Linked DNA regions of Homo sapiens: region 1 is linked to region 2. Evidence: fine-mapped expression QTL. A gene starts in region 2. The other region holds a variant in brackets. All regions are shown on one strand. Distances are from middle to middle. Region 1 overlaps SPIDR (scaffold protein involved in DNA repair). Region 2 holds the start of CEBPD (CCAAT enhancer binding protein delta).

The links. PIP is the estimated chance that this variant, and not a neighbour inherited with it, causes the effect.
Region 1: its variant is fine-mapped to the expression of CEBPD in whole blood (TOPMed, PIP above 0.99).

Annotation. Positions count from the first base shown.
Region 1 is chr8:47,521,791-47,527,160 of GRCh38, forward strand. The region is part of intron 8 of SPIDR (scaffold protein involved in DNA repair); the gene reads left to right. Among named protein-coding and RNA genes, the nearest start is that of CEBPD, 210 kb to the right of the region's middle. RefSeq lists an enhancer at 2,297-3,270. The variant C/CTAA (reference allele first, on the strand shown) is at 1,993.
Region 2 is chr8:47,735,076-47,740,445 of GRCh38, forward strand. CEBPD (CCAAT enhancer binding protein delta) reads right to left here and starts at 3,089. Exons shown (of 1, transcript NM_005195.4): 1 at 1,838-3,089. The coding sequence starts at 3,045. The coding sequence ends at 2,236. It overlaps SPIDR (scaffold protein involved in DNA repair), which reads left to right. Exons shown (of 20, transcript NM_001080394.4): 20 at 232-1,231. The coding sequence ends at 375. RefSeq lists an enhancer at 2,113-3,051 and silencers at 2,448-2,637, 3,128-3,237, 3,278-3,357, 3,448-3,917.

The DNA of each region.
Region 1 (5,370 bases), 210 kb before region 2:
CTTCCAGTTAGTTTTGAAATCTAATCAACAAGATTGGGGAGTGTTTTGTGTTAATGAAATATGTTCCTAGTTCTTAGAAATATATGAATGAGGCCAGGCACGATGGCTTATGCCTATAATCCCAGCACTTGGGGAGGCGGAGGCGGGTGGATCACTTGAGGTCAGGAGTTCGAGACCAGCCTGGCCAACATGGTGAAACCCCGTGTCTACTAAAAATACAAAAATTAGCCATGCATGGTGGCAGGTGCCTGTAATCCCAGCTACTGGGAAGGCTGAGGCAGGAGAATCGCTTGAACCTGAGAGACAGAGATTGCAGTGAGCCGAGATCGTGCCACTGTACTCCAGCCTGGCAGCTTGGGCGACAAGAGCGAGAGTCTGTCTCAAAAAAAAAAAAAAAAGAAAAGAAAAAAAGAAACATGAATGAGCAGGAGAAAAAGAACTGTGATACTGAAGGGGTCAGCCTCTCCTCCTGTGCGCCACTCTTCCCAATGGAGCATGTGCTTTGACTCTGGGGTTTCTGCAGCATCCACAATAAATATGTAACTGTATTTTGTATTTACCCACATGTGTTTTCCCTCCCATGGTGTCTTTCCCTAAATCTGTGAAGAAAATAACTGTTTTAAAATTCATTTATTTTCTCCATTTGGTTGTCAGCAGCAGGAAAGGCTGCTGAAGGATCCGAGCCAGTGTGGAAATGGGAAGGGCCTGTGAGCTCAGAGGGAAAGAGGAAGTCTCTATGTCCCGGTTACCAGCATGACCCCAGGTCAAATGACTCCCTCACCCTCTCCTCCTGCCAAGGTTGGTTAGGGTTCAAATGTGTTCCTACCCAAAATCACACAATGTCACTGTGTGGGATGCACAATATTCCATTGCTTTGCTCTGTTAAAAAAGACAGTTAAAAGTAAGAAGTATTTGTTGCAATTTTTAAAAACATGGTTTTTAAAGCTATCTTATTAGTTTTTAATGCTAAAAGCATTTTATTTACTGAAGATTCTTGGTTTTGGATAGGTTTTATTTTTTCATTAGGTGGTAGTACTCTGTTTCTGAGAAAGCTCTTTATTATGCATTATTTGTGAAATCTCTAGTAACCTGATGATGTTTCTGTCACATTGTTTTGAAAGGAATAGTTTAAAGATTTAAAGTGATCTTTTTTTGTTGTATGTGTGTGTGTGGTTTGCTTTCTTTCTTTCTATTTTTTATTTATTTATTTTATTTTATTTTATTTTTTGAGCGAGGGTCTCACCCTGTCCCCCAGGCTGGAGTACAGTGTCACAATCTCAGCTCACTGCAGCCTCGACCTCCCAGGCTCAGGCAATCCTCCCACCTCGAATTGTTGGGACTACAGGCATAGCGAGCCACCATGCATGGCTTTTCTTTTTTAATGCAAGTATTTCTTTTGGAATTTGAACTTTAATACTACTTTGGTGTGTTTTCACCTAAATTCCATTTTGTGAGCTTCTTAGTATTTGATTGAAAACCTATTTCGTTTTACTTGACCCTAACTAGATCAACAAGATAAGGATATTACCCAAAGGTCATTTCTAGTAGGATTGTGGCCACAAACGTCAATTCTGTAGCCAAGTATGGACTAATGTGGACTGAGAACTTGGCTTAGAGGAAAGACGCATTTCCACCTGTTCAGGGAGGTTTGAAGATTATCCATGTTTTGAGGGAAAAGGCCAGCTGAATGTGGAGAGTGCAAAGGTGTAACTGTCACTTGAGCTTTTCAGAAGTCCTTCGATGTAGCTGCCAACTTAAACCACCTCAAGTCCAGCCAGTACAGCAGCTCTGCTTTATCTTCAGTGTGAGTCTGTCTCCCTGCCGGCTGGTGATGGGGGTCAGGCTGGATCATGGATGCGACCACCCTGCACCCAGGCCTGCCTCTCTTTTCCCTGTTACATAGTGCTGGGCAGCCTCTGGGGGCCTCACAGATTTTTGTTTTTTAGTGGTAATAACAGCATGATCAGGCCGCAGCCTTCTCAATAAGAAGTG[C/CTAA]TAACTTCCTCAGGAAAACAGAAGTGTGGTATGCACCATTACATAACCCAGTTTCTCTGGTGATACAATTTTACTTTTTGAGAGCTGTTTTGAAGTCTTCCCACAGAACTGCAGGCCTCTCTGTTTTCCCGTATGAGGTGAGGAGATGGCAGTTTTGTCCACACACCTATGAAAAAACACAATGACAGATTAAGTGTCCTGAAGTGTCGGAAGGATACCTGGTGTGGTAGCTTCTAAAATACCACCAAAAGTTATTTTAGAGATGAATTAATTAGAATTGACATCTGAGTTAGGTTACCAAATGAAATAAAGGGTGCCAGGTAAATGTAAACTTTAGATAAACTATCAGGCACATGTATGCTAAAAAAATTATTCATTGTTTATCTGAAATTTACATTTACCTGGGCATCCTGTATTTTATTAGGTAAATCAGGCGACTCTCCACCTGAAACTAGATTATGCAAACTAAGAATTAACATAAAAAGTACTGTCATTGTGTGGATGAGAAATCTCCTCCTCCTCTTCTCCTAAACCAGTTTAGGAAGCCTGTGCTTCGTCATTTCTCATATACTCTCCTCCCATGTACATCCAGATTAAAATGTGTGTATTTGGCATGTGGCTCACTGTTTCACATGCCTAACTGCAGCCCCTCTGGGATCCTATAGTCGCAGCACTATTTTGGTAGGTCAGCCATGGGCAGCAGGTCCTGTACTCTCCTGACCACCCCCGAGGAACTGCAGGCTCTCAGCATTTGCGTGTGTCCCTCCTCAGAGCCGTGGGACAACCCCAGCCAGCTAGAGGCAGAGAGACAGGCACGTAAACCTCCTGGCACGTCTTGCGGGTGCCTGGGCCAAAGTATGCGACTGTCCTGATTCTCTGAAGGTCTCAAAGCATTTTCATATTAAGTTATTCAAGTGACCCAGAGAACAAGAAAGGAGTTGCTACTGCATGATGTCAGAGAACACTCAGAGGTTGGAAGGGAATTGGGAGAACTAAGTAATTATTAATAAATTCTAAAAGTTTAATACTCAGTATTCAAAGGAGAAAGAGTGGAGCTAACACTTTGTACCAAGGGTGCTGGTCTTGGGAATTAAGATATCTCCTGCAAGAGATTTCTGATACAATTTAGTAAAATGTAGTTTTTAGGGGAGATCTTTTACAGAAGGAAGCTTTTATTTCCAAAGGACTTCATGAAAGGTGTAAAGGCCACACTATGAATTAGGGATGACACACCCTGTTTTGAATTGGATTTCCTGCTAGTTCTGATCCGAGGCATTCTTCCCGGACTAGGGTGAATTCAGTTCCAGTGTTTGCTTGAAAACTGAATCTGGTCATTGTATTTGCAGTTTGGCTTCCTGCCTGCTGTTAAAGTACAGAGCAAACTTCAGCTAGTTACTCCCTATGATTCTGTGTCCTCCTAAAGAGCAGGGAAAGAAGAGGGAAAAACCCAGGGGGTGACTGAGTTCATTTACATGTTGTGCCAAAGGGCAGCTGCTTGCTGCCTTGTCGTCACAAGATTCTGTGGAGAATCCTGATAGTCCATTTACCAGAATAGGAGCCTGGAAAACAAAAGGAAAAAAAGTATCTTTCTTTCTATGGTTCTAGCTTTGGCATTACTAACTGAATAACCTACTTTCTTTTTCTTTAACCAACATAGGTGAAAACTTAGAAAATTTTATGTTCTCCCTCTTTCCAAAGTTTTCTGTATGAAGAAAGAACTTATAAAAAGAGGTCACAGCTGGGCGCGGTGGCTCACGCCTGTAATCCCAGCATTTTGGGAGGCCAGGGTGGGCGGATCACCTGAGGTCAGGAGTTCGAGACCAGCCTGGCCAACATGGTGAAACCCCATCTCTACCAAAAATACAAAAATTAGCCAGACGTGGTGGCATACGCCTTTAGTCTCAACTACTCAGGCAGCTCAGGCAGGAGAATCGCTTGAGCCCAGAAGCCACTGCACTCCACCCTGGGTAGACAGAGTGAGACCCTGCCTCAAAAAAAAAAAAAAAAAAATCACAAGGCACGGTGGTAGCACTGCTGGCTAGTTGGACCTGGCTGTGCCTACTGAGTTGTCCTGAGAGAACACCAGGTTGTGTACATGCTGTCTGGATTTGTGGGAAGTGTGGGGGGCTTACCCCTTTTCCCTGCAGTTGTAGAAAATGTGATGCAATCTGCTCAGTGTAGTTCCAGCCACCCCTTAAGATACCTGGCAAAACTTAGCATAGTGTGGATCAGAAGGAATCCAGAAGCATATAGTGGCACCAGCCTATGTGTCCTTACGAATCTTGTATTCCCCTGAGTTAAACTTAGAGCCTCTGAATTTGCGGAAGGGACAGAAAGGAAAGATGTTCTGTTGTGGGGCTGTTCCCAGGCTCAGCTTCCTCACACTGAGGCAGTGCATCCAGTACTGAAATAAGGAACATTGCAATGATGCCTGGGGTCAGCAAGTGGCCTTGCTGACATCACAACATGTGCATTTCTCACTGTTCTTGGTTATTTAATTCTGGTCTGGTCCATTGGATTAGAGCCAGATTAAACATCAATAAATTTTGAGTTTACTATTAACAAAGAGCAGAGTCCTGCTACCTTACTGTTACTTTGCTAGGTGCTAAGAGAGAAATCAGAAAATTTAAGGCATGGATTTTGGTCACAGGGAGCAAAATCTAGTCTTCATTGGCTAAGAAGCCTTAAAAACCATGTAACTGTCACATAGTGGCAGACCACGAGCAAAAAGAAAAAAAATGAACCCTGCTTCTTCTTGGCTGTTTTATGGAGATGGTGCATTCAGCTGCCTGGTGTTTAGAGGAACCAAATGTACAGAAATGAAACCGTTCAGGAGATTCCCAGAGCTAACTGCAGGGTGCTGCAGGGATGTGGCAACTGAACATCCAGGAACTGTAACAAGACAGTGTTTAAATAGGTCAAAATGAAGCAGTCCAAAGCAGGAGTTCTGACTTCTGGTTTCTAGTCTGGCATATAAGGCAGGTGGAAGTTGTCATTCCTGTCTTCACAATAAGAAAAAGTTGAACAAACTAAAAATCAATGGTTTTTAGCTTCATCAGAGAATTGTCACAGAACAAACAGCTGCCCCCCAAATTGGAGCAAATGACAGGCAAATAAACAGAGAATCACAGCTTCCCAGAGCAAAAGACCTGAAGGGGACGTATCCAGCAGAACTCAGAAGCAGCCTAAGAAAACTTCAATTAATTCACACATTGCCAGAGGCTCGGTGTGGACAAGCTTGCAAGTTACACTCCAGGGGGTCCTGTCTTGGAGAGAGGGGGCACACTTTTGTTTTATGTTTTATGTTCTATGTCTAGGAACCCTGCTAGGTTCTCACTGTGAAGATCAGGGAACAACCCATTGTGCTTGTATCGGGGG
Region 2 (5,370 bases):
TAAAATAAATGGGTGTGTGGGTGTGTGTGTGTGTGGGTGTGTGTGTGTGTGTGTGTGTGTAGTGGCTCTTCATTTGTTTCTCCTTCCTACCACTGTTCTCAGCCATTTGAGGAGTGGAAGGTCGTGGACTGGGGAAAGGGCCTTCCACTCTGGCTCTCTGGTTTTCCGTGTTGTTGGGAACAGTACGTCCCAGGCTGTTTGCTTTAACCAGCGTGCCTTTTATCACTGCAGAGCTACGAAGTGAAGAGTGTCCTCGGAAAGGAAGTGGGGTTGTTAAATTGTTTTGTCCAGTCCGTAACCGCCCACCCGACCAGCTGCATTGGATTGGAGGAAATCGAGCTTCTGAGTGCAGGAGGGGCCTCTGCAGAACACTAGCGGTTGCCGCAGGATCTGTGAACTTTGCAATGTGGCTGCAAGGGTGGTGGTGGTGGTGGTGATTTGGGGTAGTTATTTGTTAACTATGGACACAGTGAACGTAGTTTACGATCTTGAAATGAAACTTAGATTTTTCTGGGGAAATGTTCAGATACAGTTTTGTGAACTGTAAATCAAAATACCTTTTTCTACAGTTTATCTTTTATTTTCTGCAAATTTAGGAACATATTTACTCGTTTTCACATTGAATCTTAAGTTTAAGCTCTTCATTTGGTATTTAGGCAATATATGAGAAAAAAATTTTTTTTGTTCATTTGTAATTTTAACAAGTTGAACATTTTACCATGATTGAACATGTTTTTATTACAGTATTTAACATTCCCCCAAAGAATACCCTGCAAAGTGTAAACCTTTGTCCCATACTGTGATATTACTGTTCTGCTACAATAAATGTCAAACCTAAGCACTTTGCAGTTCACTACTTTTGGGAAAATGTTCTAGGGAACTGTATCACAGGTGAAACTGTTACCCATAAAGTGTAGCTCTCTGAACTGGTGTGATCGTGTCTCTGCTGAATGGTGGTGGGGATAGCTGGCTCCACCACACACACCTGTTTTAATTAGGCTGGGTAATGTGCACGGAGAGCAAAGATCACAGACTAAGGAGCAGTCAGTCGGATATTTGCTTTGCTGGCAAAGATTTAAACCAAGAATTAATTATCTTTGGACACTATAAAGATTTTGTTCCCTTCCTTATAGCAATATAATCATGACAGGCCATGGTTAACTACATCAGATACACGTAGCAGCCGTGACCAAGACATGGTGCCCTAATACCAAGTGTTCTTGGGTTAAAGGCAGGCGGCTTTTTAATTAAATCTTAAAGCACTGCAATTACTGGCAAGACAGCTGGTCTTAAGCAGTTTTGTGACTGCCCTTTTCATCCACTACATGACTATTCCGGCCTTTCTGGAGCACTTTTGAAAATCTACTTGACTCTGTCCACAAGACTGAGGAAAGTGAAAGCAAAGTCCCGGGAAAGCGGGAGATGATTCAGCCCGGGGTTCTGCCCCTCGCCCCTCCAGCAGCCTCTACAGTTAGGGAGCTCTTGAACTGTTCTCAGCAGGGGCCCCCAAAAAGTCAACCCTTCCCCAGGTCTGCGTTCTTCGGGAGAACACCTTCTGCTGGAAAGCTGCTAGCTTACCTGAGCTCAGCCGTGCTCCACCTAGCTTAGGCAAGTTAAATAAGGCCAGGAGAGAGCCTTTAATGCGTTTTAAAAGCGACAGACCCTCTCTCCTGAGTAGCTCGGGCCTGCGCCCCATCCCCCCGCCCCCCCCACACACACACCTGGCGCCCGGGCTCCCTGGTGCTCGCTGGCTGCGGGTCCGGAACGCACCCTTCCCGAGCCGGGTCCTGCGCCACCGGCGGGCGGGCGGGAGTCACTGCGAATATAGGAAGCAGGGGCGATTTCAAATGCTGCTTTATTCTTACAAATACTGTAAAAATTAATATAAAAAAGTGAGCATGCTCAGTCTTTTCCTCTTATCTACAATACAAAGGGTTTGTCTGAAAAGTCTGGTTTTTTTTCTTTTTACAAATGTACCTTAGCTGCATCAACAGGAGTAAGATGTAGAAAAAGCTACCATTACAAAAATAATTTAAGGGAAAATAAACACGTTTAGCTTCTCTCGCAGTTTAGTGGTGGTAAGTCCAGGCTGTAGCTTCTTTGCGCTCCTATGTCCCAAGAAACTGCAGCGGGCACCCGGCGGCTCTGGCTGCGCCAGGGCAGGGCGCGCTCCGCTCCGGGCCGTCGGGTCTGAGGTATGGGTCGTTGCTGAGTCTCTCCCGCCCCGGCCGCGCGTTACCGGCAGTCTGCTGTCCCGGCGGCCGGCAGGAAGGGCGGGCTGGGCAGCTGCTTGAAGAACTGCCGGAGGCCGGCCAGGTCCCGCGTGAGCTGCTCCACGCGCTGGTGCAGCTTCTCGTTCTCAGCCGACAGCTCCACCAACTTCTGCTGCATCTCCTGGTTGCGCCGCTTGGCCTTGTCGCGGCTCTTGCGCACGGCGATGTTGTTGCGCTCGCGCCGCTGCCGGTACTCGGGGCTGCCGCGGTCCGGGCCCCTCTTGCCGGCGCTCTTCTCCCGGGCGGGGCCGGGCGCGGGGGTCTGCCTGGGGCTGCTGCGCGGCGGCTCCGGCGACGTGGGCGGGGTGGGCTGCCCTGCGGCCGCCAAGCTCACCACGGTCTGTGCGCACGCGGCCACCTGCGCGGGCAACAGCGAGCCGGGCGCGTCGCCGTCGCCCCAGTCGGGCTCGCGCTTGAGCAGGCGGGGAGCGGCAGGGCCCGGGCCCAAGGGGCGCGCGGGGCCGCCGGGAAGAAGCTCCAGGGGCCCCGCGCCGCCCGCCTTGTGATTGCTGTTGAAGAGGTCGGCGAAGAGCTCGTCGTGGCACAGCTCCAGGGTGGGCACGGCGGCCATGGAGTCGATGTAGGCGCTGAAGTCGATGGCGCTCTCGTCGTCGTACATGGCGGGGGCGGCGGCGCCTGGCTCGCCTAGGGCCCCTGGCTCGGCCCCGCGGCCCGGCTTGCCCGCCCGGCCCGGTTCGTAGAAGGGCGCAGGCTCCGCAGGCCAGGGCGCGCCGCGCGCCGGGCCGTCCAGGCTGAAGAGCGCGGCGCTCATGGCGGCGTCGGGCCGGGCTCTGCGTCCAAGCGAGGCTGTCACCTCGCTGGGCCCAGCCCCGCCGCCTTTTCTAGCCCCGGCTGACGTGCACGCCCCGCCCCGACTCCGGCACCGCGGGGGCGCCCCGGGGCCGCGGGGGAAGGGGCGGGGGCGCCCTGGGAGCCCCCCGGAGCCGCCCCGAGCCTTCCCGGGGCGCGCCCCCTCTCAGTTCCTCCCCGGGGCCCCCTCCCCGGCCCTGGGGACCCCCAGCCCACGTTGCAGGAGGGTGCCCGCGCTGCTGCTCCCTCCCCGGCCCGGGCCGGCCTGCGCTGCGCTGCTGGGAATGACACTCCCTCTGCCAGCACTCCAGGGCCTTCTCTTCTTCCTGTTTGTGGGCTTGGAACCTCCTCGCTCCTCGGGGTTGGGAGTGAAATCAAAACCAGGACTTGGCCGCAGCGCGCGCGTCCCAGGCCGGCTCCTGTCGCCGGAGGGCGGGGGGTGGAGACCCGTGGGAGAGGACCCGCGCGTCCAAGGACGCCCCCCGACCGTGGGCACGCGCGTGAGGCCCTCGCCCCGCGCCTCCACCGTGGGACCAGATGCGGGAAGAGGCGTGGGGGACCAGACGTGGGGACAGCGGCGGCCTGGCAGGCGGGGAGGGCTGCCCGCACCGCACTCGGGCGCCTCGGGGAATCCGGGCCGGTTCTCGCTGCTCTCCTCGGAGGTCCCGGGTCCGGCCGGCCCTGGGGGTCGAGGCCCAGAGACGCGGCTGCTGCGTCCTGGCCGAAAGGCCGACGGGACGCTGTCGCCAAAAGCAGAGCAGATGGGGGAGACGCGGTCACGACACCGCGTCCTCCGCCGGCTCCTCGAGGTGCGGGCTCTCCGGCCGGACGCTACTCCCCGACCCCGCAGACCCGGGCGTCCGCCGCCAGCTCCCGCGCCCGCGTTTCTTCCAGGTCTACGGAAGCAGTGCCATCGTGTGGCGGCATCTTGCGTTAGACCTGTTTTTAGTTCCAGGCTCTTTCCCTGTTAAATATTCCAAAAAAGTGCCTTGAACCTAAAGTAGTTGGGTCCTTTTTGGGAAACAGGTAAGATCTACCAGTAGCTATAGCAGGGTGCAGATGGGCCTCGACTCACGATGGGGTTACATCCCGGTAGACCCATCGCACACTGAAAATGTCTTAAGTAAGAATGGGCTTTGTCATGTGTCCTGCAATTTGAGGCAGGCATTTCTGGTCAGACCCATTTATTATTTTAAATTAAAAATATGGTTTTTTTCAGCCGAGCACAGTGGCTCATGCCGGTAATCCCAGCATTTTGGGAGGCTGAGGTGGGCGGATCACTTGAGGTCAGGAGTTTGAAACCAGCCTGGTCAACATGGTGAAACCCCATTTCTACTAAAAATACAAAAATTAGCCAAGCGTAGTGGCGTGCGCCTGTAATCCCAGCTACTCGGGAGGCTGAGGCAGGAGAATCGCTTGAACCCGGGAGGCGGAGGTTGCAGTGAGCCGAGATCGTTCCATTGCACTCCAGCCTGGGCGACAGAGCGAGACTCCATCTCAAAAAAAAAATTGAGATGGGATCTCACAATATTGTCCAGGCTGGTTTCAAACTCCTGGGCTTAAGAGATTCGCCGGCCTCAGCCTCCCAAAGTGCTGGGATTACAGGCGTGAGCCACCATGTCGGGCCCAAATCCATTAAATCACTATCGCTAGTCACACCTGCTCCATGTCGAGTCTCTTCCTGCGCAGGCCTCTCACCAGATCTGCGTCGGAACACCAAGCTCTACTAACTGCTGTGCAGTTTCTGCAGTCAGTTCCAGAGGTCATTTCTAACGTTGCACTATGGGATATTTAATAGGTTTCCTAAAGAACAAACATATTTCTTTAGAGTTACTCAGAGGGTACACAATGATGATGTCACACAATTAATTACCTATTAAGACTGAAATCCAGCAATGCATAGAGTGTGGACTTACGCACATCCAGAAAAAGTTCTAGCACAAATTGTTTTGTTCTCATATATTTCAGAAGCCATAGAAACACTATTAAAGCCCTCCCTAATCACTTAGGGAATGCAAAATCAATATTTATAAGGGATAACCATATCCTCCTAAAAACAACTCAGAGACTATTTTCAGTGAGATGATTTACTGATTCCGATAGTCAATATAGTTACATTTTATTTTTATTTTTATCTTTATTTTTGAGACGGAGTCTTGCTCTGTCGCCAGGCTTGAGTGCAGTGGCGCGATCTCAGCTCACTGCAACGTCCGCTTCCCGGGTTCAAGCGATTCTCCTGCCTCAGCCTCCGGAGAAGCTGGGATTACAGGCCCGTGACACCACACCC